Homo sapiens: one gene and its partners. The protein of the gene in region 6 purifies or fractionates together with the protein of the main gene of each other region. This does not show direct contact. Each region holds a gene or a part of one and is shown on either strand. Other genes may lie near its edges. The genes, in order: DDI2, IPO8, IPO7, PPP2CB, SART3 and ZNF846.

The links.
Region 1: the proteins of ZNF846 (region 6) and DDI2 purify together in Homo sapiens (co-immunoprecipitation; one large-scale study listed by IntAct). This does not show direct contact.
Region 2: the proteins of ZNF846 (region 6) and IPO8 purify together in Homo sapiens (co-immunoprecipitation; one large-scale study listed by IntAct). This does not show direct contact.
Region 3: the proteins of ZNF846 (region 6) and IPO7 purify together in Homo sapiens (co-immunoprecipitation; one large-scale study listed by IntAct). This does not show direct contact.
Region 4: the proteins of ZNF846 (region 6) and PPP2CB purify together in Homo sapiens (co-immunoprecipitation; one large-scale study listed by IntAct). This does not show direct contact.
Region 5: the proteins of ZNF846 (region 6) and SART3 purify together in Homo sapiens (co-immunoprecipitation; one large-scale study listed by IntAct). This does not show direct contact.

What each region holds. Positions count from the first base shown.
Region 1 is NC_000001.11:15,651,939-15,655,556, forward strand, and holds part of DDI2 (protein DDI1 homolog 2), read left to right. Parts: intron 1-3,618. UniProt on the Homo sapiens protein: Aspartic protease that mediates the cleavage of NFE2L1/NRF1 at 'Leu-104', thereby promoting release of NFE2L1/NRF1 from the endoplasmic reticulum membrane.
Region 2 is NC_000012.12:30,682,324-30,685,941, reverse strand, and holds part of IPO8 (importin-8), read left to right. Parts: intron 1-51; exon of another isoform or gene 52-142; intron 143-1,484; coding exon 1,485-1,641; intron 1,642-3,618. UniProt on the Homo sapiens protein: Involved in nuclear protein import, either by acting as autonomous nuclear transport receptor or as an adapter-like protein in association with the importin-beta subunit KPNB1.
Region 3 is NC_000011.10:9,436,573-9,440,190, forward strand, and holds part of IPO7 (importin-7), read left to right. Parts: intron 1-1,181; coding exon 1,182-1,402; intron 1,403-1,507; coding exon 1,508-1,713; intron 1,714-3,618. UniProt on the Homo sapiens protein: Functions in nuclear protein import, either by acting as autonomous nuclear transport receptor or as an adapter-like protein in association with the importin-beta subunit KPNB1.
Region 4 is NC_000008.11:30,785,052-30,788,872, reverse strand, and holds the end of PPP2CB (serine/threonine-protein phosphatase 2A catalytic subunit beta isoform), read left to right. Parts: intron 1-2,565; coding exon 2,566-2,638; 3' UTR 2,639-3,257; downstream 3,258-3,821.
Region 5 is NC_000012.12:108,530,094-108,533,711, reverse strand, and holds part of SART3 (spliceosome associated factor 3, U4/U6 recycling protein), read left to right. Parts: intron 1-1,377; coding exon 1,378-1,490; intron 1,491-2,431; coding exon 2,432-2,508; intron 2,509-3,401; coding exon 3,402-3,570; intron 3,571-3,618. UniProt on the Homo sapiens protein: U6 snRNP-binding protein that functions as a recycling factor of the splicing machinery. Promotes the initial reassembly of U4 and U6 snRNPs following their ejection from the spliceosome during its maturation.
Region 6 is NC_000019.10:9,765,882-9,769,954, reverse strand, and holds the start of ZNF846 (zinc finger protein 846), read left to right. Parts: upstream 1-1,216; 5' UTR 1,217-1,666; intron 1,667-4,073. UniProt on the Homo sapiens protein: May be involved in transcriptional regulation.

The DNA of each region.
Region 1 (3,618 bases), on a different chromosome or scaffold from region 6:
TAAGCCCGGGAAGTGTGGGCTTCAGAAGGGGTAGGAACCTTTCCAGTTTTTAATTAGTCTCATGGTCCAGTAGTAGATGTGTTCATTATTTGTCTTCTTAACCTCCTTCTTTGATCTTCCTTTTTTTTTTTTTTTTTTTTTTTTGGAGACATTGTCTCACTCTGTCACCCAGGTTGGAGTGCAGTGTGCAGTGTGACATGATTGTAGTTCACTGCACCCTTGACTTCCTGGGCTCAAGCAGTCCTCTCACCTCAGCCTCCTGAGTAGCTGGGACTACACCTGGCTAATTTTTTATTTTTAGCAGAGATAGGGTCTTGCTGTGTTGTCCAGGCCTATCTCCAACTCCTGGGCTCAAGCAGTCCTCCTGCCTTGGCCTCCCGAAGTGCTGGGATTACAGGTGTGAGCTACCATATCCAAACCCCATCTCTTAATACAATAATGAAAAAGTCTGTATTCTGGCCCGGCGTGGTGGCTCACGCCTGTTAATCCCAGCACTTTGGGAGGCTCCGGAGGGGGGGGGGGGGGGGCGGATCACCTGAGGTCAGGAGTTTGAGACCAGCCTGGTCATGGTGAAACCCCATCTCTACTAAAAATATAAAAATTGGCCAGGCGCGGTGGCTCACGCCTGTAATCCCAGCACTTTGGGAGGCTGAGGCAGGTGGATCACGAGGTCAGGAGATGGAGACCATCCTGGCTAACACGGTGAAACCCCGTCTCTACTAAATATACAAAAAATTAGCCGGGCGTAGTGGTAGGCGCCTGTATTCCCAGCTACTCAGGAGGCTGAGGCAGGAGAATGACATAAACCCAGGGGGCGGAGCTTGCAGTGAGCTGAGATCGCACCACTGCACTCCAGCCTGGGTAAGAGAGCGAGACTCCATCTCAAAAAAAAATAATAATAAAAATTAAAAAAAAATTAGCAGGGTGCAGTGGCACACCCCCCGTAACCCCAGTTACTTGGGAGGCTGAGGCAGGAGAATTGCTTGAACTTGGGAGGCGGAGGTTGCAGTGAGTCAAGATGGCACCACTGCACTCTAGCCTGGGCAACAGAGTGAGACACTATCTCATAAAAAAGAGAAACATTCTGTTTTTTAGTATTTCAACAGATTAAGAACAGCTCAGTCCATTGCTGTGTTTAAGATAGATTGGGGTTATTTTGCTTAGACACATTTTAGAAGCTTCCTAAATTTTTTTAGGAAGTTTTTTTTGGATGTTTTTGTTTTTGTGATTTTCCTAAAGAAAATTTTGACAGTAAGCAGATGTTAACTTTTGAGTCCAACAGTATTTCCCTATTTCTTTCCTTTTCTTAGGACTGTTTTATTTTATTTTATTTATTTTATTTTATTTTATTTATATAGACAGAGTCTTGCTCTGCTGCCCATGCTGGAGTGCAGTGGCGCAGCCATGGCTCACTGCAGCCTCAGTCTCAGTCTCACAGGCTCAAGCAGATCCTCTCGCCTCCGCCTCCCAAAGTATTACAGGCATGAGCCACCATGCCTCTTAGGCCTGGTTTATTTTGAAAAGTATCATTGCTACTGTGTGTGAGCAGCCCTAACTTCACCGAAGACAGAAGAACCAACAAAAAGAAGTATAAATTTTTATTTACTTAATTAAAAAAAAAATTTTTTTTTGAGACAAGGTCTTACTCTGTCACCCAGACTGATCCTCCCATCTCCCCTTCCTGACTAGCTATGACTACAGGTGCCTGCTACCATGTCCAGCTAATTTCTGTATTTTTTGTAAAGATGAGGTTTTGCCATGTTGCCCAGGCTGGTCTTGAACTCCTGGGCTCAAGCAATCCACCCGCCTCAGCCTCTCAAAATGACAGGATTATAGGAACGAGACACCATGCCTGACCAGCATAATTGAACGTTACTGAAAATGCAGTGTTATGGTGTGAGATTACAGTATTGTCATCAGGCCATATTAGCACTGTATATATTGAAATCATGCTACCTAATACTTTTTTCTAAGTCTCAGTTATTTAGCTTGTTTAAATGTAATGATGGAGCTAAGTTTTCTAGGTAAAATGGGGTAACAGTTTTGCTGAAATCCCCCATTTATTATAGAACGGTGACTCTGGGATGTATTTTCTAGAAGCTGAATAGAATTTACTTTTGAGTTTGGGTTATTTTACAGTCTTGTGCTGGCATTATTCATCAGTATGACTAGTATCACACATTGCTTTTTCTAGTACAGTAAATTATTAAGAGTTACAAGTTCAGGGAATAGCTTTATCCTAAAGACGAAAGTGGTAAGAGTTTTAAAAACAGCCAGGCAGCTTTTGCCACTGTTTTACTGGAGAACATTCAGATGTCTGTCATTGAGCTTTAGAATGGGTGTGGGTGGCAGATGGAGTTTTCCAGGTTGACTTTGTTCAGAATCAACTCCATCACCTTTTGGCTTAGTTTTATGTATAAAGTACAGTTTGAGTCAGGGCGTGGTGGCTTATGCCTGTGATCCCAGTACTTTGGTAGGCCAAGGCAGGACGACCACTTGAGCCTGGGAATTTGAAACCAGCCTGGGCAACATAGTGAGTCTTTGTTTCTACAAGAAATTTAAAAAAAAAATTAGCCAGCCATGGTGGCGCGCCTATGGTCTCAGCTGTTTGAGAGGCTGAGATGGGAGGATCACCTAAGCCCAGGAGGTCAAGGCTGCTGTGAGCCATCATCGCTGCCACTGCAATCCAGCCTGGGTGACAGAGTGAGATCCTGTGTCCAAAAAAAAAAAAAAAACAACAGAATTGACTCCCATCACTTTTTGGCTCAAGTTTTTATATTAACTACAGTTTTGGTTGTAACTTAAGTATTTTGTAGGAAGGGAGGAATTTTGAACAACCAGACAGAGACTAACTTAATAGTTTTAATCTTACCTGCAAGGTAAGCTTGAATGAATTTGACATAGCTCCTTACAAGGTTTTGCATTTGGGGTGTAATTTATCATCTTAGTCGTGATGCTGTGTGTTAATATGAGGATATATTATCATTTTATGAAATGTCTTTTTTTTTTTTTTCCTTTTAACCTCCACAGTCTTGGTGCCATTATTTAAGAAACATTAGCTGATAATAGCAGTGTTTTCTAACCTACTAATAACAGTTATCCTTTTTTGGTAATTACCTTATTTTAGTAAAAGTTTGGAAGATTAAAACAGATACACATATGTTTCCAGGCTTAGTGAAGGGGATGTACCAACTTCAAAGAATTAAAAAGAAATGGCTTTTTACCTAAATAACCTTTTGTTGCTGGTAGTATAGCTTGTGCTAATTTTTGTAATGTTTAAGTAATGAAATAATTCTACATATCAGGTCCTTTTTATTTAGAACATCGACTTCCTAATATCATCCGAATAAATACTCTGGACATAGTAGGTGAAAGTATTTTGTTAACAACTTCTTTCTGGCCAAGCATGGTGGCTCATGCCTGTGGTCCCAACACTTTGGGAGGCTGAGGTGGGGAGATCACTTGAACCTATGGATTTGAGACCAGCCTGGGCAGCATGGCAAAACACTTGTTTCTAAAAAAAAAAACCACGGCTGGGCGCAGTGACTCACGCCTGTAATCCCAACACTTTGGGAGGCTGAGGAAGGGTGGATCACCTGAGGTCAGAAATTTGAGACC
Region 2 (3,618 bases), on a different chromosome or scaffold from region 6:
TGCTTTGACTACCCAATTTAGTTTTTTTTTTTTTTTTTTTTGACAGAGTCTTGCTCTGTTGCCCTGGCTGCAGTGCTGTGGCATGATCTCAGCTCACTGCAACCTCCGCCTCCTGGGTTCAAGGAATTTGCTGGAATTACAGGTACCTGCCACCATGCTTGGCTAATTTTGGTATTTTTAGTAGAGACGGGGTTTCACCATGTTGGCCAGGGTGGTCTCGAACTCCTGACCTCAGGTGATCCGCCCGCCTCGGCCTCCCAAAGTGCTGGGATTACAGGTGTGAGTCACTGCTCCGGGTCATGAATTTAGTTATATGTTAAAAGTTGGGTGAAGAAAGAGTTGGGTGGGGAAAGAAGAGAAGCTTAAGGGAAGAAAGTTATGCTGCTTTGCAAATCACGTATCTGTATTCTTTACACACACACACACACACACACACACACAACATTATAAGTATTTACTTACATTCACTGTTCAACTGGGATGGTTAGAAAGCTTTACATTCTGGCCAGGTGCAGTGGCTCACACCTGTAATCCTAGCACTTTGGGAGGCCGAGGCAGGCAGATCACCTGAGGTCAGGTGTTCGAGACCAACCTGGCCAACATGGTGAAATCTTGTCTAACTAAAAATACAAAAATTAGCTGGGTGTGGTGGCACATGCCTGTAATCCCAGGTATTTGGGAGGCTGAGGCAGGATAATCGTTTGAACCCGGGAGACAGAGGTTGCAGTGAGCCAAGATCTTGCCACTGCACTCTAGCCTGGATGACAGAGAAAGATTCCGTCTCAAAAAAAAAAAAAAGAAAAGAAAAGCTTCACATTCTTTCTTAAAATGCTGTAGCAATATGTCAGCCTGTTTCTTTCAGAAGCCTTTTGTTAAAGGTTGAAGACGATTAAAAAGAACAGAACAAAATCAGATTATGTATTTTGATAGATGTGAACATATAAAAATTTTCTGAGCTTTTTTCCAAAAATTTTTGATGGCTGATGTTCATTTCCCTATTATATTTACAAGTAGTACATATTTCAAAAAGGTTGGATGAAAATTACCAATACTATAAAAAGAAGAGATACCCCAAAATGCTAGTGTTTGACAGTAGCCAGTGGGAAAACAAAAAACAAAAAAAGCCATCTTCATGAAGGAAAGTAGAACTTTACCTGTTGTCACCTCAGAATTAGGCATTGCGAAAAGTATGATTTTATGATCTCAAAGTATGTTTACTATGCATTATTTCTAGATAATTTTCCTGTCCTGTAAGCTCTGGGTCTTGACTTAATGAAATGTTTTCTGCTTAGACTAGCTGAAGTGAAACCTTTAAATTCTTATCCACTTTCCCTTCCTGATTTGGCTGTTTATACCTGTAAGAGTATCCATTTTTGCTGGGTTTCATGTTTAACATTGAAGGGTTTGGACTTTCATGCTCTGTAAGGCTGAATTAAAGCCATCCTTTTTGGTACTGCTACATTAGCATTTTTTCTCAAACTCAGCTGCCATTTACCTGAAGAACATGGTGACACAATACTGGCCAGATCGAGAACCTCCACCAGGAGAAGCAATATTTCCATTCAACATTCACGAAAACGATCGCCAGCAAATACGTGATAACATTGTGGAAGGAATAATTCGGTCTCCAGATTTAGTGAGGTATGTGGTGCTATATATTTGTGATTACTAGAAAGCATGAAATGGTTAGATCTGAGGGTGGGTGCTGTTGGATCTAATCCTTGGCCTCATGTTTCATTTTCTAAAGAGGTAAAGTAATAAAGAGGGACACTCAAAGAATATTATTTTACTTAGTGGTCTTTGCATTTGTAATTCTTTGCCTCAAGATATTTTGGAAAAGATTTTGTTGTCGTATGTTGCCACAAAAAGAGGTAAGATTTAAAAAAAATGATACTTAACCAAAACAATTGTGTAAGTCTTGCTACTTAAATGACCTTTATTCTTAGTAATGATCTCTTGAGTTTTTTTACTACCTGCTTTTCTTTTCTTTGATACAGAGAGACTGATTCTGGGAATTTTTACCTACTACCTGTCTTAATCTTTCCCTGTATTTTTATTCACATTTATGAATTGAGCATGTTTTCCTTCAGAGAAGACAGGATAGAGTAGGTATAAACTAGAAGAACTGTCTCCAGTTTTTTACAGTCATAGATTAGATGCTGTAGAGCAGTAGTGTCCCTCAGAACTTTCTGCAGTGACAGTGTTCTGTGTCAGTGCTATCTAATATTAGCCACAAGGCATCAATGACTGTTGAGCACTTGAAATGTTGCTAGTTGTAACTGAGGAACTGAATTTTTAATTCTATTTACTTTTGATTCATTTAAAGTGTGCATATTTAACTAGCAGCTGCTCTATTGGACAGAGCAGCTGTAAAGTCATAAAAATTTTGCAATCTTAAAATAGGAGAAACAAATTCTTTTCAACATACAAGATAGTAATTAGGTATCTTTTGAAAATGGGAGGGACAAATAGGTGAAAACAGAGGTAGAGGAATGAAATTTTTTAATATCAAGAGGTTGAATATAACGTTAGCCCTTAGTATCTAATAGCCATCATGACATAAGCAGTGGAAAAGGAAGGAAGTACGACGGGTAACAGGAAGGAGAACAAACATTGAACTCTTAGAGCAATTAATTTGTTAAGAGGAGAAAATAGGTGTACTGGTTAAAAAGAAAAAATCACTATTATTCTTATTGGTTGCCCAAATGCCAGTCATGGGACTGATACCCCTGTGGTACCATCATGTATCCATTTATTTTCAAAATCTTAAATTTTCAGATCTCCCTTAATCTTCGAGTGGTTCTACACAGTAATGCATGAAGGATGGCCTTTCATAACCATCCTTTGCTTGGAATGAGAAAGGACTGGGAGAATCAACCTGAAGATGAAATTTTAAAAAATGAAAAGCTTCAGTTTTATTTTTTACAAATATGACATTTATTGTTTAAAGGAGCAGCTACTACTGGCACTAAAGGAGATCTTTTATCTTTATTACGGGACGGTTCTCTGTGGCTTTGCTCCTTTTATGTCCTTAAGGCTTAATTATAATCATTGTTGAAATTTCTTCCACCTATTCTCAAAGTTTAAGAGTATTACAAAGGGATTTTTCAAATAGATTTGATAACGTGAAGAAAAGGCATCATTTTGTTTAATTTTACCAGTTTAAGTGAATCTGAGTTACTGGTTGTTCAACTGAAAATGCTTTATTTTTTTTTTAGTTGCCCTGTGGAATCCTAATTTTGCCAAGTTTGTTTTCTAACCATTTGAAAATGTCATGTAAGGTCATATTTGGTGATAACATTGAATTGATAGTTTATAGAAAAGAAATTTTTCCCCCTATTTTCTTTTCAGTTCCAGTTAAAGTTGAAATCTCATTGAGGAAATGATTACTTATCTATGTTATCAGATAACTTATTTTAGCATTTAACTTTGTGGTTTTATTAAAGGAATATTTTCTTTTTCTGTTTTATGTCTCTTCTGTTGCCTTTTTCATTTATTTCTTTGGAAATAGCTCTTAGCTCTCCTCTTCAGGAATTGCCTCGCTAATAATACATGTTTCTTTCTTATACTTGGGGTACAAAAATTAGTATCTCAGACTGCTTTGGATAGATTCAACAT
Region 3 (3,618 bases), on a different chromosome or scaffold from region 6:
TACTTTGTTATCATGAAAGGTAAACTTTTGCTTAAGATTTTTTGGATAGCTTTAGTAATTAAATATCCATGGTCAGTTTTTTTGTTTGTTTGTTTTGTTTTGTTTGTTTTTTGTTTTTTGTTTTTTTTGAGTGAGAGTCTTGCTCTGTTGCCCAGACTGGAGTGCAGTGGCACATTCTCTGCTGACTGCAACCAGATTCAAGCAGTTCTCCTGCCTCAGCCTCCCAAGTAGCTGGGATTACAGGTATACACCACCACAACCGCCTGATTTTATATATATATATATATATATATATATTTTTTTTTTTTTTTTTTTTTTTTTTTTTTTTTTTGAGACGCTGTCTCGCCCTGTCGCCTAGGCTGGAGTGCAGTCGCGCAATCTCAGCTCACTGCAACCTCTGCCTCCCAGGTGCAAGCAGTTCTCTGCCTCTGCCTCCTGAGTAGATGGGATTATAGGTGCCTGCCACCACACCTGGCTAATTTTTTATATTTTTAGTAGAGAAGGAGTTTCGCCATTTTGGCCAGGCTGGTCTCAAACTCCTGACCTCAAGTGTTCTGCCCACCTCAGACTCCCAAAAGTGCTGGGATCGCAGGCATGAGCCACGTCACCCGGCCCACGGTCAATTTTAATAGGAACTTGTGAAGCCATGATTGATATCATCGTGAGCTTTTATTTATTTTTTATTTATTTCATATATTTTTTTGAGACAGAGTCTCGCTCTGTCGCTCAGGCTGGAGTGCAGTGGCGCGATCTCAGCTCACTGCCTCTGCCTCCCAGGTTCACGCCATTCTCCTTCCTCAGCCTCCCAAGTAGCTGGGACTACAGGCACCCGCCACCACGCCTGGCTAATTTTTTGTATTTTTAGTAGAGACGGGGTTTCACTGTGTTAGCCAGGATGGTCTTGATCTCCTGACCTCGTGATCCGCCTGCCTCAGCCTCCCAAAGTGCTGGGATTACAGGCGTGAGCCACCACTCCCGGCCCGTCGTGAGCTTTTAATAGCTCCATGAAGACTACTAGACTTTCTCTAAAATTAGATTTCCCAGTGCAGTGCCTCAGCAGTAAATATTGGTCATCTAATGCTACAATAGGGTTAATTGAGGCAACAAAGAAGTTAATATTTTTAGAATGTTTGCATGCTATTAATTATAGTCTTAGAATATCTTGCTATCTTTTTTTGTAGTGCATTCCCTTATTCGTGGAAGCAGCCTTAGAAAGACTGACAAGAGAGGTTAAGACAAGTGAACTTCGAACTATGTGTCTGCAAGTTGCAATTGCAGCTTTGTATTATAATCCACACCTACTACTCAATACCTTAGAAAATCTTCGCTTCCCTAATAATGTTGAACCAGTTACAAATCATTTTATTACACAGTGGCTTAATGATGTTGACTGTTTCTTGGGGTAAGTGATGTATTGCAATTTTACTACATTTGCTTTGGGAGGAACTCTGCTTATTTAAGAAAAGAAAACAGTTTTTTTTTTTTTTTTTTTTTTTTTTTTTTTTAGGCTTCATGACAGAAAGATGTGTGTTCTCGGACTCTGTGCTCTTATTGATATGGAACAGATACCCCAAGTTTTAAATCAGGTTTCTGGACAGATTTTGCCGGCTTTTATCCTTTTATTTAACGGATTGAAAAGAGCATATGCCTGCCATGCAGAACATGAGAATGACAGTGATGATGATGATGAAGCTGAAGATGATGATGAAACCGGTAAGGGATTTTCAATGGAAGAAGACAAAACTTATCTACTTAGAAATATTACCGCACTGGGCCGGGCGCAGTGGCTCAGGCCTGTAATCCCAGCACTTTGGGAGGCTGAGGCAGGTGGATCACACGGTCAGGAGTTCGAGACCAGCCTGGCCAGTATGGTGAAACCCCACCTCTACTAAAAATACAAAAATTAGCTGGGTGTAGTGGTGGGCACTTGTAGTCCCAGCTACTTGGGAGGCTGAGGCAGGAGAATCGCTTGAACCCATGAGGCGGAGGTTGCAGTGAGCCAAGATTGCATCACTGCACTCCAGCCTGGGTAACAGAACGAGACTCCATCTCAGATTAAAAAAAAATATATATATATATCACTAGCCCTTCTCCCAAATAAATGTGGGATCATACCCAAATGCTTTCATTCACAGAAAAGACTTCCTTTCTTCTCACTAGAGTGATGTAATCAGGAACTTCAGCTGTATTACCAACATGTAGAACAGTTCAAACCATTATAGTATGCAACCAACAAAGATTTGTTTATTTTACACATTCTCAGCACTGTAGATACAAAGATGAATGAGATGTCATGCAGTTCTTCAAAAGTTTTCTATCCGACTGTGGGAAAGTATTACAAAGCCAAATAATTATGTATATAATAATAGAGTTGACACGAAGTGCTGAGTCCACTTAAGAGCGAGAGATTATAGTTCCCTTTTTTATATGGTGGCATGAGCCTATAGTCCCAGCTACTTGGAAGTCTGAGGTATCAGATTCGCTTGAGCCCAGGAGTTTGATTCCAGCCTGGGTAACATAGTGAAACCCCAGTTTTTTGTTTTTTGGCTTTTTTTCCTTTGAGACGGAGTTTTGCTCCTGTTGCCCAGGCTGGAGTGCAACAGCGCGATCTTGGCTCACTGCAACATCTGCCTCCCGGGTTCAAGCAATTCTCCTGCCTCAGCCCCCCAGATAGCTGGGATTATAGGCACGTGCCACCATGCCCAGCTTATTTTTGTATTTTTAGTAGAGACAGGATTTCACCATGTTGGCCAGGCTGGTCTGGAACTCCTGACCTCAGATGATCCACCCTCCTGGGCCTCCCAAAGTGCTGGGATTACAGGCGTGAGCCACTGCACTGAGCCGTGAAACCCCATTTCTTTAAAAAAAGTTGTGGGGATTACATGAGGGAATCCTTGACGCTTAAATAGTGCTTGGCAGATGGCACTGAATTAACAGTATTAACAAAGGTACACATATCATTATAGTTACTATTACAAGATTTATGGGGGTTTTTTTTGTTTGTTTTTTTTTGTTGTTGTTGTTGAGACGGAATCTCGTTCTGTCGCCAAGCTGGAGTGCAATGGCAATCTTGGCTCACTGCAACCTCCGACTCCCGGGTTCAAGCGATTCTCCTGCCTCAGCCTCCCAAGTAGCTGGGATTACAGGCGTGTGCCACCACACCGGCTAATTTTTGTATTTTTAGTAGAGATGGGGTTTCACCGTGTTGGCCAGGGTGGTCTCAATCTCCTGACCTCATGATCTGCCTGCCTTGGCCTCCTAAAGTGTTGGGATTACAGGCGTGAGCCACCGCGCCCGGCGAATTATGGGGTTTTCATTTTATTTTTAAGCTTCTAAAGATTTATGGTCTTAATGTTGACTAAATTTATTGGAGACATCCATCCTATCATCTATTAATTCTAAAACCTAAGCATACTTGCACTATAACATTATGTTAATTAAATGTTGATAAATACATTTTATCTATAAGACTGTACACTATCAGTGTATAAATTGATAAAATATTAAGAGAAATTATTATAAGGGTTTCAACATAAGATAGCTATTGCTATTTTTGTCTTTTATCATTTACTAACTTAGCCAGCCTTTTAAAAAAAATCTTACAAAAGGTTTGGTGGG
Region 4 (3,821 bases), on a different chromosome or scaffold from region 6:
ACCACAGATTATAAGACATGGAAAGAACAAGGAAGTGTGACCTCTACACAGGAAAAAACTAAGCAACAGAAACTGTTTCTCTTGGATAGAACAACTAGGCAGGAGATGAAGGCAGGAGAAGACTTGAGCAACACTGTAAACTGACTGTATACCTCATGTCTGTAAAACAACACCCAACAACAGCAGAATACTTTCCTCTCAAGTAAACATGAAACATAGTCATATGCTAGACTGTAAAACATGCCTCAGGCAATTTAAGAAGATTAGATTCTTAAAAGGATATTCTCCAAACACAAGGAAATGAAATTAGAAATCATTAACATGGCTGGATGCTGTGGCTCACACAAGTAATCCCAACACTTTGGGAAGCCAAAGTAGGAGGATCACTTGAGGCCAGCCTGGGCAACATAGGGAGACCCCGTCTCTACAAAAAAATTTAAAAATTAGCCAGGTATGGTGCCAAGCACCTGTAGTCTCAGCTGTATGGGAGGCTGAGATGGAGGATCACTTGAGCCCAGTTGATCAAGGCTGCAATGAGCTATGATCACAGCACTACACTACAGCCTAGGCAACAGAGCAAAGACCCTGTCTCAGAAAGAAAAAAACAAAAAAAAAAACAAGAAGATTTGAAATCAGTAACCTATCTTTATACTTGAGGACCTAGAAAAAGCAGAGTAAACTAAACCTGATGTAAGCTTATGAAACGAGGTTTAGAGTAGAAATAAACAAACAGTAGAAAATCATTACAGAAAAATCAACAAAACCCAAAGTTGATGCTTTGAAAAGCCTTAACTAGACTGGCCAAGAAAAAAAGGAGTAAAGACTCACATTACCAAATCACTAGAGACCTTACTGAAATAAAAAGGATTATAAGGGAATACAATAAATAACTATATGCCAGCAAATTCAGTAACTTTGATAAAACGTACTAATTCCTAAAAAGAAACTACTGAAACTGACTCAAGAAATATGAAATCTGAATGACCTTTCAAATGTGAAAATATTGAGCCAGCATGGTGGCTCACACCTATAAATCCCAGCTTTGGGAGGCCAAGCTGAGAGGATTGCTTGAGACTAGGAGTTTGAGACCAGCCTGGACAACATAGCAGGACCTTGTCCCTATTTAATTTAAAAGAATATAAATAAATGAGTGAAAAAGTTAAAACTCCCCACAAATAAAAGGCCAAGCCCAATTGGCTTCATTGATGAAGTCCACCAAATGTTTAAAGAAAGGAATTGGCCAGGTGCGGTGGCTCTAACCAGTAATCCTAGCACTTTGGGAAGCCAAGGCAGGCAGATTGAGCCCAGGATTCAAGATCAGCCTGGGTAACATGGTAAAACCCTGTATCTACAAAGAATACAAAAATTAACCTGGTGTGGTGGCTCAGCCTATAGTCTCAGCTACTCAGGAAGCTGAAGTGGGAGGATCACCTGAGCCCAGGGAGGTTGAGGCTACAGTGAGCCATGATCACACCACTGCACTCCAGCTTGGGCAACAGAGTGAGACCCTGTCTCAAAAATAAAAACGAGTTAATGCCAATCCTTCACAAACACTTCCAAAAAACAGAAGAGGAGGACTACTGCATTCATTCTGTCACACCTGCACTATTATCCTTGATACCAAAAGTAGACAAAGGCAAAAACAGACCAGCATTTGTTACGAATACAGATATAAAATTTTCCAACATACGTACCAGCAACCTGGATCTAGCAATATGTAAAAAGATTATACACCATGAGCAAGTGGGATTTATCCCAGGAATGCTAGGTTGGTTCAAAACATGAAAATCAATATAATAAACCATATTAATATTAAGGGATTAAAAAACACATGATCATCTCAATAGAGGCACAAAAATAATTGGAAAAATCCACTAGCCAGAAACACTCAAGAAAATAGTGATATTAGGCCTGGCGCGGTGGCTCACGCCTGTAATCCCAGCACTTTGGGAGGCCGAAGCGGGTGGATCATGAGGTCAGGAGATGAGACCATCCTGGCTAACACGGTGAAACCCCGTCTCTACTAAAAAAAAATAAGAAAATTAGCCGGGCATGGTAATGGGTTCCTGTAGTCCCAGCTACTCAGGAGGCTGAGGCAGGAGAATGGTATGAACCCAGGAGGCGGAGCTTGCAATAAGCCGAGATCGTGCCAGTGCACTCCAGCCTGGGCGACAGAGCAAGACTCTGCCTCAAAAAAAAAAAAAAAAAAAGTGATATTATTATTATTATTAAATAATATTAAACAATTATTGTTTAATTATTTAAACTTGATATTATTTAATCTTTAATTATTTAAGCTTTTAAATAATAATAACATTTAGAAATTGTTATGCCAGGCACCAAACCAGACATTCTGTCTTCTTAAATTTTCACCATAGCCCTATGAAGCAGTTAGTTGGAATGGGAGCATCTGCAGTGATTTGCCCATGGCCATTCCAGCCGTAAGTGATGTAGTCATGGTGGGAAAGCAGGACTGCTGTTTCTACTACAGTGTCTTGTTCTTTATTCATTTGTTTTCTTTGCAAAGTCAGATCCTTTATTTGCTTCCTTTTTTGCCATTTACAGCCTTCAATTTGACCCAGCGCCTCGTCGTGGTGAGCCTCATGTTACACGGCGCACCCCAGACTACTTCCTATAAATTTCTCCTGGGAAACCTGCCTTTGTATGTGGAAGTATACCTGGCTTTTTAAAATATATGTATTTAAAAACAAAAAGCAACAGTAATCTATGTGTTTCTGTAACAAATTGGGATCTGTCTTGGCATTAAACCACATCATGGACCAAATGTGCCATACTAATGATGAGCATTTAGCACAATTTGAGACTGAAATTTAGTACACTATGTTCTAGGTCAGTCTAACAGTTTGCCTGCTGTATTTATAGTAACCATTTTCCTTTGGACTGTTCAAGCAAAAAAGGTAACTAACTGCTTCATCTCCTTTTGCGCTTATTTGGAAATTTTAGTTATAGTGTTTAACTGGCATGGATTAATAGAGTTGGAGTTTTATTTTTAAGAAAAATTCACAAGCTAACTTCCACTAATCCATTATCCTTTATTTTATTGAAATGTATAATTAACTTAACTGAAGAAAAGGTTCTTCTTGGGAGTATGTTGTCATAACATTTAAAGAGATTTCCCTTCATTTAAACTAAATTACTGTTTTATGTTGATCTGCATATTTCTGTATATTTGTCATGACAGTGCTTGCATCCTATTTGGTGTACTCAGCAAATAAACTTTTCATTTTAAACAAAAACATTCATTTATTGTGTTGTGCATTAAATGAAAACTTTATTTTTTCTAGACCAGGTCTTGCTCTGTCATCTGGGCTGGAGTGCAGTGGCACAGTCATAGCTCACTTCAACCTTGAACTCCTGAGCCCAAGCCATTCTCCTCCCTCAGCCTCCTGAGTAGCTGGGACTACACTCAACATACCACCACACCCAGCTAATTTGTAAAATATTTTGTAGAGACGGGATCTTGTTATGTTGCCCAGGCTGGTCTTGAACTCCTGGCCTCAAGTGGCCCTGCCAAATTCTTGAGATTATAGATGTGTGCCATCACACCTGGCCTGCTATCTTGAAACGACATAAAATCTTTCAAAGCAGGGCAATGGGACATGGCTATAGTCCCAGCTACTCAGGAGGCTGAGGTGGAGGATGGCTTGAACCCAAGAGCTTGAGGGCAGCCTGGGCAACATAGCAAGATGTCATCTCTAAAAAATAAAAAATAGGCTGGGCATGGTGGCTCATGCCTGTAATCCCATTGCTTTGGGAGGCTGAGAAAAGAGGATTGCTTGAGCTCAGGAGGTTGAGACCTG
Region 5 (3,618 bases), on a different chromosome or scaffold from region 6:
GTTCATATCTGTATTGATCTTAGTTGAAAAGTATTTTAAGTAGGAAGCTGTCAGACTTGTGGTGGCAGATACAAGTTTTCCAAAATTCTAATTTTCACTTGAAAGCTTGAATTCTATCACATGCAACAAATAATGTCAGTGGTTTTCCCCAGAGTGGCAGCCTCACTTTGTTAATTTTCAAAAATGTCTGCCAAATACCCAGGTCTGAGTAACTGACCGTGGTTTGTCACTCAAGTTTCCTTTCAAGTAAAAATGGTGTCCTTGAAAAAAATGACTTGATTAGCTTGCAACTCAAACAGTAATATGCTTTTTTTTTTTTTTTTGGCAATAACCATTGTACTTCAGTATGCAGAAGGGCTTTAAGTGTACTTAGTATTTCATCACACAGTGCATTAAAAAGATTTCTACTGCCTTGATTTGTGCTAAGGGCCACCATTACTTGTGCACTGTCTTGAAGATGTCAACACAGTGAAAAAGTCCAGTAATGTCTTGGTATTATTATAAAAGGAGTTTTGACTTTGCAGGGCCCCTGAGAGGCTCTGGGAGATCCTCAGGGGTACGTGGATCTTACTTTGAGAACCAGTGCTCTGAATTTATTCTGAGCATCATAATATGTATATATAATTATGTATATTTAAAATGTTTTAAAAACAAATATGAATACACTGTTGCATAACAGTTATGATTAGCAGAATTGTGTAGCTGTTGTGATTAGCAGTGTACAAAAAGGATCTGTTTGCGACCAGCCTTGCCAACCTGGTGAAAACCTGTCTCTATTAGAAATACAAAAATTAGCTGGGTGTAGTGGTGGGCACCTGTAATCCCAGCTACTCAGGAGGCTGAAGCAGGAGAATTGCCTGAACCTGGGAGACAGAGGTTGGAGTGAGCCGAGATCGTGCTATTGCACTCCCACCTGGGTGACAAGAGCGAGACTCCCTTTCAAAAAAAAAAAAAAGATCTGACTCTGGGTATGAAATTTGACACTACCCTGGATTCATAACTCTCCTGTCAGTAGGACGCCATAGTAAAATTTCCCTGGGGACTGTATCAGGTTACAGAGAGCTGTTGGACTCCCCCGCCATGTGCCGCACATGTGAATGCTGTAAAGGCAGAATGCTGGTTGCAGATCACAATATCAGGTACACTTTCCAGTAGCCCCTACATGGCTGAGGGAGAGAGTGCTTCAGGGAAATACTTCGTAGGTGACTGTAGAGACTCTGGAAGGAGAAAGCATCATGGATAGATCTGAAAGCTAAGGTCTTCTCAGAAGCTAGAGTTACTGAAGAGTGAGTTTCTACCTGGGAGAAGACGGCCTCTCCCTTCGAGTGCCTTCCACTTTGTGTCCTGGTGGCAGCAACTTTTTGTTTTCTGCCTTAGAGCTCATGGTGACACCCAGCACTGCCGGAAGGCTCTGCACCGGGCCGTCCAGTGCACCAGTGACTACCCAGAGCACGTCTGCGAAGTGTTACTCACCATGGAGAGGACAGAAGGTGGGACCCCCAGCTCTCTTCTGGCTTGGAGCCTAACCCATTTGCTGTTTGGTCTCAAGTAGGAGCATCTGGTTACAGTCTGGGGACAGACTGTGTTTATGCTGCCACCTTAGGTGGTGCCCTATGATTAGACTGTCACAAGTGTCCTGAAAATGAGTCCTCCTGCAGCTCTTCTCAAATTCTGCAGCTACAAGGAGGACTCTGTGATGTCACTGTAGCACAGGGTTCTAATTCTCTGTGGGGGGGACTGTGCGTTATACAATGTTTAGGGGCATCCCTGGCTTCTAGCCCTGAAATGCCAGTAGCAGCTTCACCACCACAACCAAACATGACAACCAGAAATGTCTCTTAACATTGCCAAATGTCTCTTGATGGGCAGGATCCCTCCTTTGAGAGTCACTGTGCTCTAGTACAACATCTATCCAACAAAGGAGCTTGGAGAGGCAAATGGCTCAATGTGTCCTTTGCATCCCTTGTTAAATTTCAGAGCCTTCAGTGTTAGCTAGAACCAATAGAAAAATAATGTGAACTTATCTGTGGGTATTGGTCTGGATTTTGGGTATGGACCCCTCAGAACTGGCTTGCAAAGACCACCAAAAAATAAGAAATAAATGCCTCAACATTTGAGTAGCTCTTAAAATTCTTCAGTCTTAATATAAATGTACTTTTGCATTAGAACGTTCGTTTTCATATTCTTTGCCATTTAGAGCCCTTAATAGATCATATTCTGGTTTTCAAGTCTCTCCTGAAAGGAGAGGGACATTTTAAACCCACTTAGAAGGACTATTTGAATTCTGAACTTCAAGCCTACAGGGATTACATTTTCTTATTGTTTGATGGGAGAGATCTCTTCTGGAGGTACAGAGAAATTAAGAAAAATTTATGTGATTGTATCCTTCAAAATCCTAAAGAGTGAAAGTTTTGCTTCTCTTTCTTTCAAGGTTCTTTAGAAGATTGGGATATAGCTGTTCAGAAAACTGAAACCCGATTAGCTCGTGTCAATGAGCAGAGAATGAAGGTAATGACAATGTTTGAAGTCTTTGGCACCTCTGGTAGCTATTTTGGCTCAGTTTGGTATGGATGTTTCTTGTCAAGATGTTTTACATTTTCCTAAGTGTCTTTTACTCAGTATTAATTATAAAATATTTAGATCAATGCTTAAACCTGTCTTGTGTCATTTTTACATTGTTCTAAAACATCAGCCCCAATATTAAGTACTTGTTTCATTTAGTGAGGGAATTTTGGCTCTAAAATTTACGAGAATTGATGAAAAAGAATAAAGAAGAGCCTCACTTAGCCTAGTGAGTGGAACATGAACACCCCAACTTATTTAGGGCTTCAGTTTTATGGATTTTTTTTTTTTTGAGACGGAGTCTCGCTCTGTTGCCCAGGCTGGAGTGCAGTGGCATGATCTCGGCTCACTGCAAGCTCTGCCTCCCGGGTTCACGCCATTCTTCTGCCTCAGCTTCTCGAGTAGCTGGGACTACAGGTGCCCGCTACCACACCTAGCTAATTTTTTGTATTTTTTTAGTAGAGATGGGGTTTCACCATGTTAGCTAGGATGGTCTCGATCTCCTGACCTCGTGATCCACCCATCTCGGCCTCCCAAAGTGCTGGGATTACAGGCGTGAGCCACCGCGCCCGGCCAGTTTTATGGATTTTTTTGCCTTCCTTTTGGTGAGTAATGATTAGGGTGAGGAAATTGCTAATGTAACAGAGACATCAGATCCAGAATTCCAACGAACCTGAATGAGCCCTGGTGTGGAACAGCCGTGAGCCTGTCCACGTTTTTCTCCTGATCTCTGCTTTTCATTAGTAATGAATTTCCACTCCTTCTCCCCTTTCATGACAAATCAGTACAGTGAATGTAATTGCCACATCCAGCGATGCATCATCTTCCCACTTTTCTAGGCTGCAGAGAAGGAAGCAGCCCTTGTGCAGCAAGAAGAAGAAAAGGCTGAACAACGGAAAAGAGCTCGGGCTGAGAAGAAAGCGTTAAAAAAGAAGAAAAAGATCAGAGGCCCAGAGAAGCGCGGAGCAGATGAGGATGATGAGAAAGAGTGGGGCGATGATGAAGAAGGTAAGGAGCTCTTGAGAAATTGTGTTTTGAAACGTCTTAAAGTTAGAG
Region 6 (4,073 bases):
GGCTGGAGTACTGTGGCATCGTATCAGCTCACTGCAACCTCAGTCTCCTAGGTTCAAGCAATTCTCCTGCCTCAGCCTCTCGAGTAGCTGGGATTACAGGCGCCCACCACCACACCCGGCTATTTTTTAAAAAATATTTTTAGTAGAGATGGGGTTTCGGCATGTTGGCCAGGCTGGTCTCGAACTCCTGAACTCACGTGTTCCACCCGCCTCGGCTTCCCAAAGTGCTGGGATTACAGGCGTGAGCCACTGCCCCCAGCCCCATCAGGTTAATCTTTCAAACAGGGTGTCGCTGGTCTCGAACTCCTGGGCTCAAGCGATTCTCCCGCAGTAGCTAGGACTACAGCGGGATTATCTTTGTAAATATGTTTATATCCCTGCAGAGGGTTGAAGAAACAAGGAGAAAATCCTGCAGAAAAGAATTTCCCTAGGGTGGTGGCTCACGCCTATAATCCCAGCACTTTGGGAGGCCAAGGTGGAAGGATCACTGGAGCCCAGGAGTTCCAGATCAGCCTGGGTAACAAAGAGAGACCCTGTCTCTACAAAAAAATAAAAATAAAATAAAAATAAATTAGCCAGGCGTGGTGGCACACACCTGTGGTCCAAGCTGCTTGGGAGGCCGAGGGGGGAGGATCCTTTAGGCTCAGGAGTTCGAGACCAGCCTAGGGAACACAGTGAGACCCAAGTGTCTAGAAAAAGATAACTTAGCTGGGCGTGATGGGCCCAACTGTGGTCCAAGCTACTCCGGAGGCCGAGGCGGGAGGATAGCTTCAGCGCAGGAATTCCAGGCTGCAATGATCTATGACCGAGCCACTGCACTCCAGCCTAGGCGACAGACCGGAGCCTTATCTCAAAAAACTAAAAAGAGAAATTAAAAAAGAAAAGAAAAGCACTCGATGAGCATCCCGCTGTCTGCAATCGAAGCCTTAGGTGACGCCTCCACGCGTGCCCCGCCCGCTGCGCCAGTCCCCGCCTCCAACCCGGCCCTTGGCGCTGGGTTTCCTGGTCCGGCGTCGTTCCCAATATCGACAGATTGATCTGGATCCTGGTCCACCTGGGATGCGAGAAAACGGGACTTTTCTGTACGCGTGTCGAAGAGGTGGCCCCAGCTCTTCTCTCAGCTTCACATCATCCTCATTCCAAAGCTCTTGGGGCTCGGCCCCTACACTTAATGCCGTGCGCAACCGGAAGCGGAAGTGCCAGCCGGCGCGCAGCTATACGTATTCCCCGCTCTCCAGCAGCTTCCTAGCTGGGTTTTCACCTCAGCCAGCGCTCATGCTCAACCTAGGCAGGGCGGGGCAGGAGGGCCTAGCGGGAGGCGGAGCGAGGGTCGGAGGGTGACGCTCCGGACTTCTGCTAGGTCTGAGACGCGCCGGCCTCCCGCTGCTGCTCCGGAGAAGCGGCGCCTCCTCCCCGCCAGGACCCCGAGGCGGGGGGTTCCCGCCTTCTCTTCTGAGCGCCTCTTCCCGCTGCGCCCGCATCAGTCTGGGCCTGGCCCAGGGTCCCCGGTGGAGACGTGTTTTTTTCTCCAACCACCGTGCCCCTCTGTTTAAAAGCAGCCAGTCAACCTTTGTGTCCTTTCTCCAGAAGGAAAAGCATCTCAGCTGTTGTGGAAAAGGGCCCCAGCGTCCTCTTGTCACCGACAGGGCGATTGCAGTGCGTTCCGGTGAGCCCTGGACGGAGGAGATGATCTGGCTGTGGGAGGGCATCGCTTATTGAAGTTTGCGAAATTGCTCAGCAGTTAAATGCTTTGTCAAGTGTGCAGGAGTTGTAGGTTTATAGAAATAAAAGCAAATATTGCCACAGTTATAAAGCAAAGTAGCAATACTCCGCTGTGTTTTTGAGATCAAAAGCAGCTGAACTTCCTAGGTCAGTACCTCCCAAAGAGCTTCAAAACGGAGGGGCTTCCAGGAAGTAGGATGCCGCCTTCATTATACCAGTATCAGAAATTACAGTTGTATTAACTGTGAAAGAGACATGTTTTGATTCAGCGTTTTTCCTCTCGTATATATACATATTTTGAGACGGAGTTTCGCTCTTATTGCCCAGGCTGGAGTGCAATGGCGTGATATAGGCTCACTGTAAACTCTGTCTCCCGGTCCAAGCGATTCTCCTGCCTCAGCATGCTGAGTAACTGGGATTACAGGCATGTGCCACCACGCCCGGCTAATTTTGCATTTTTAGTAGAGACGGGGTTTCACCATGTTGGTTGGGCTGGTCTCGAACTCCTGACCTCGTGATCCACCCTCCTCGGACTCCCAAAGTGCTGGAATTACAGGTATAAGCCACCGCGCCTGGCCTTCCCCCTCATATATTTTTATTTATTTATTTACGTTTTAAAGACAGGGTCTTGGTTTGTTGCCCAGGCTATCTGTAGATTGAATATTCTAAACCAAAGAAAATGTGAAAGGCCAGAATATTGAACACCTATTATATATCCTTGTTGTAGACTGATCATTTGTTAATATTTTGCATGTTTTCTGTTTCTTTGCATCTCTTGTGTAGATCAATGTGTATTGGCCGGGTGCGGTAACTTAAACACCTGTAATCCTGGCACTTTGGGAGGCCGAGGTGGGCGGTTCACCTGAGGTTGGGAGTTCCAGACCAGCCCGACCAACATGGAGAAACCCTGTCTCTACTAAAAATACAAAATTAGCCAGGTGTGGTGGGGCATGCCTGTAATCTTAGCTACTCGGGAGGCTGAGGCAGGAGAATCGCTTGAACCCGGGAGGCAGAGGTTGTGGTGAGCTGAGATCGTGGCAATGCACTACAGCCTGGGCAACAAGAGCAAAACACCGTCTAAATAAATAAATAAATAAATAAAACTAGGCCGGGCACAGTGGCTCACCCCTGTAATCCCAGCACTTTGGGAAGCAGAAGCAGGAGGAGCCACTGAAGCTATGAGTTTGAGACAAGCTGGGACAACATAGTGAGACCCCATCTCTACAAAAAAAAAAATAAATAAATAAAAGCATAACTAAAGTCAGTGACAATATCAAGTCTTCTTTAAGATGTGCATGCATTGCTGAAGAGAACACTTTTTTTTTTTTTTTTTTGAGACAGAGTCTTGCTCTGTTGCCAGGCTGGAGTGCAGTGGCATGATCTCGGCTCACTGCAACCTCCACCTCCCGGGTTCAAGTGCTTCTCCTGCCTTGGCCTCCCGAGTAGCTGGAACTACAGGTGCATGCCACCATGCCCAGCTAATTTTTGTATTTTTAGTAGAGATGGGGTTTCACCATGTTGGCCAGGATGGGTTTCACCATGTTGGCCAGGATGGTCTCCATCTCTTGACCTTGTGATCCACTCACCTCGGCCTCCCAAAGTGCTGGGATTACAGGCGTGAGCCACCATGCCCAGCTACATTTTAAAACAGTGACAACTAAATATGGACTTGGTGATGCAACATGCATACGTGTGCCAGGCTAAATGTAAAAGTTATTTATCACATTATTTGAAATAGCCTAAATTAGGAACAACCCAAATGTGGATCCACAGAATGGGTGAATTGTGGCATATTTCTGTGGCTTTTTTTTTTTTTTTTTGTGACAGAGTCTTGCTCTGTCACCAGGCTGGAGTGCAGTGGCGCAATCTTGGCTCACTGTAATTTCTGTCTTCCTGGTTCAAGTGATTCTCTTGCCTTAGCCTCCCGAGTAGCTGGGATTACAGGTGTGAGCCACCCATTTTTCTTTGTATTTTTAGTAGAGATGGGGTTTCACCATGTTGACCAGGCTGATCTTGAACTGCTGACCTCAAGCGATCTGCCCACCTCGGCCTCCCAAAGTGCCGGGATTACAGGCGTGAGCCACCATGCCCAGCCTCTGTGGCATATTCTTCAGCAAAGATATGAACCAAATCACAGGTGGATGAACACAACAACTTGGGTGCACCTCACCAGCATAATGCTGACTGAAAGAAGCCAGACACAAAAGTATTCTTACTGTCTGATAGTTGCTAGGCAAAGTCAACTAGAGTATTTTTTCTTTTATTCTTTGTTTTCATATATGTGTATATATATATATGTATATTTATTTGTTTATTTATTTATTTAATAAAGAGACTTGGTCTCACTATAT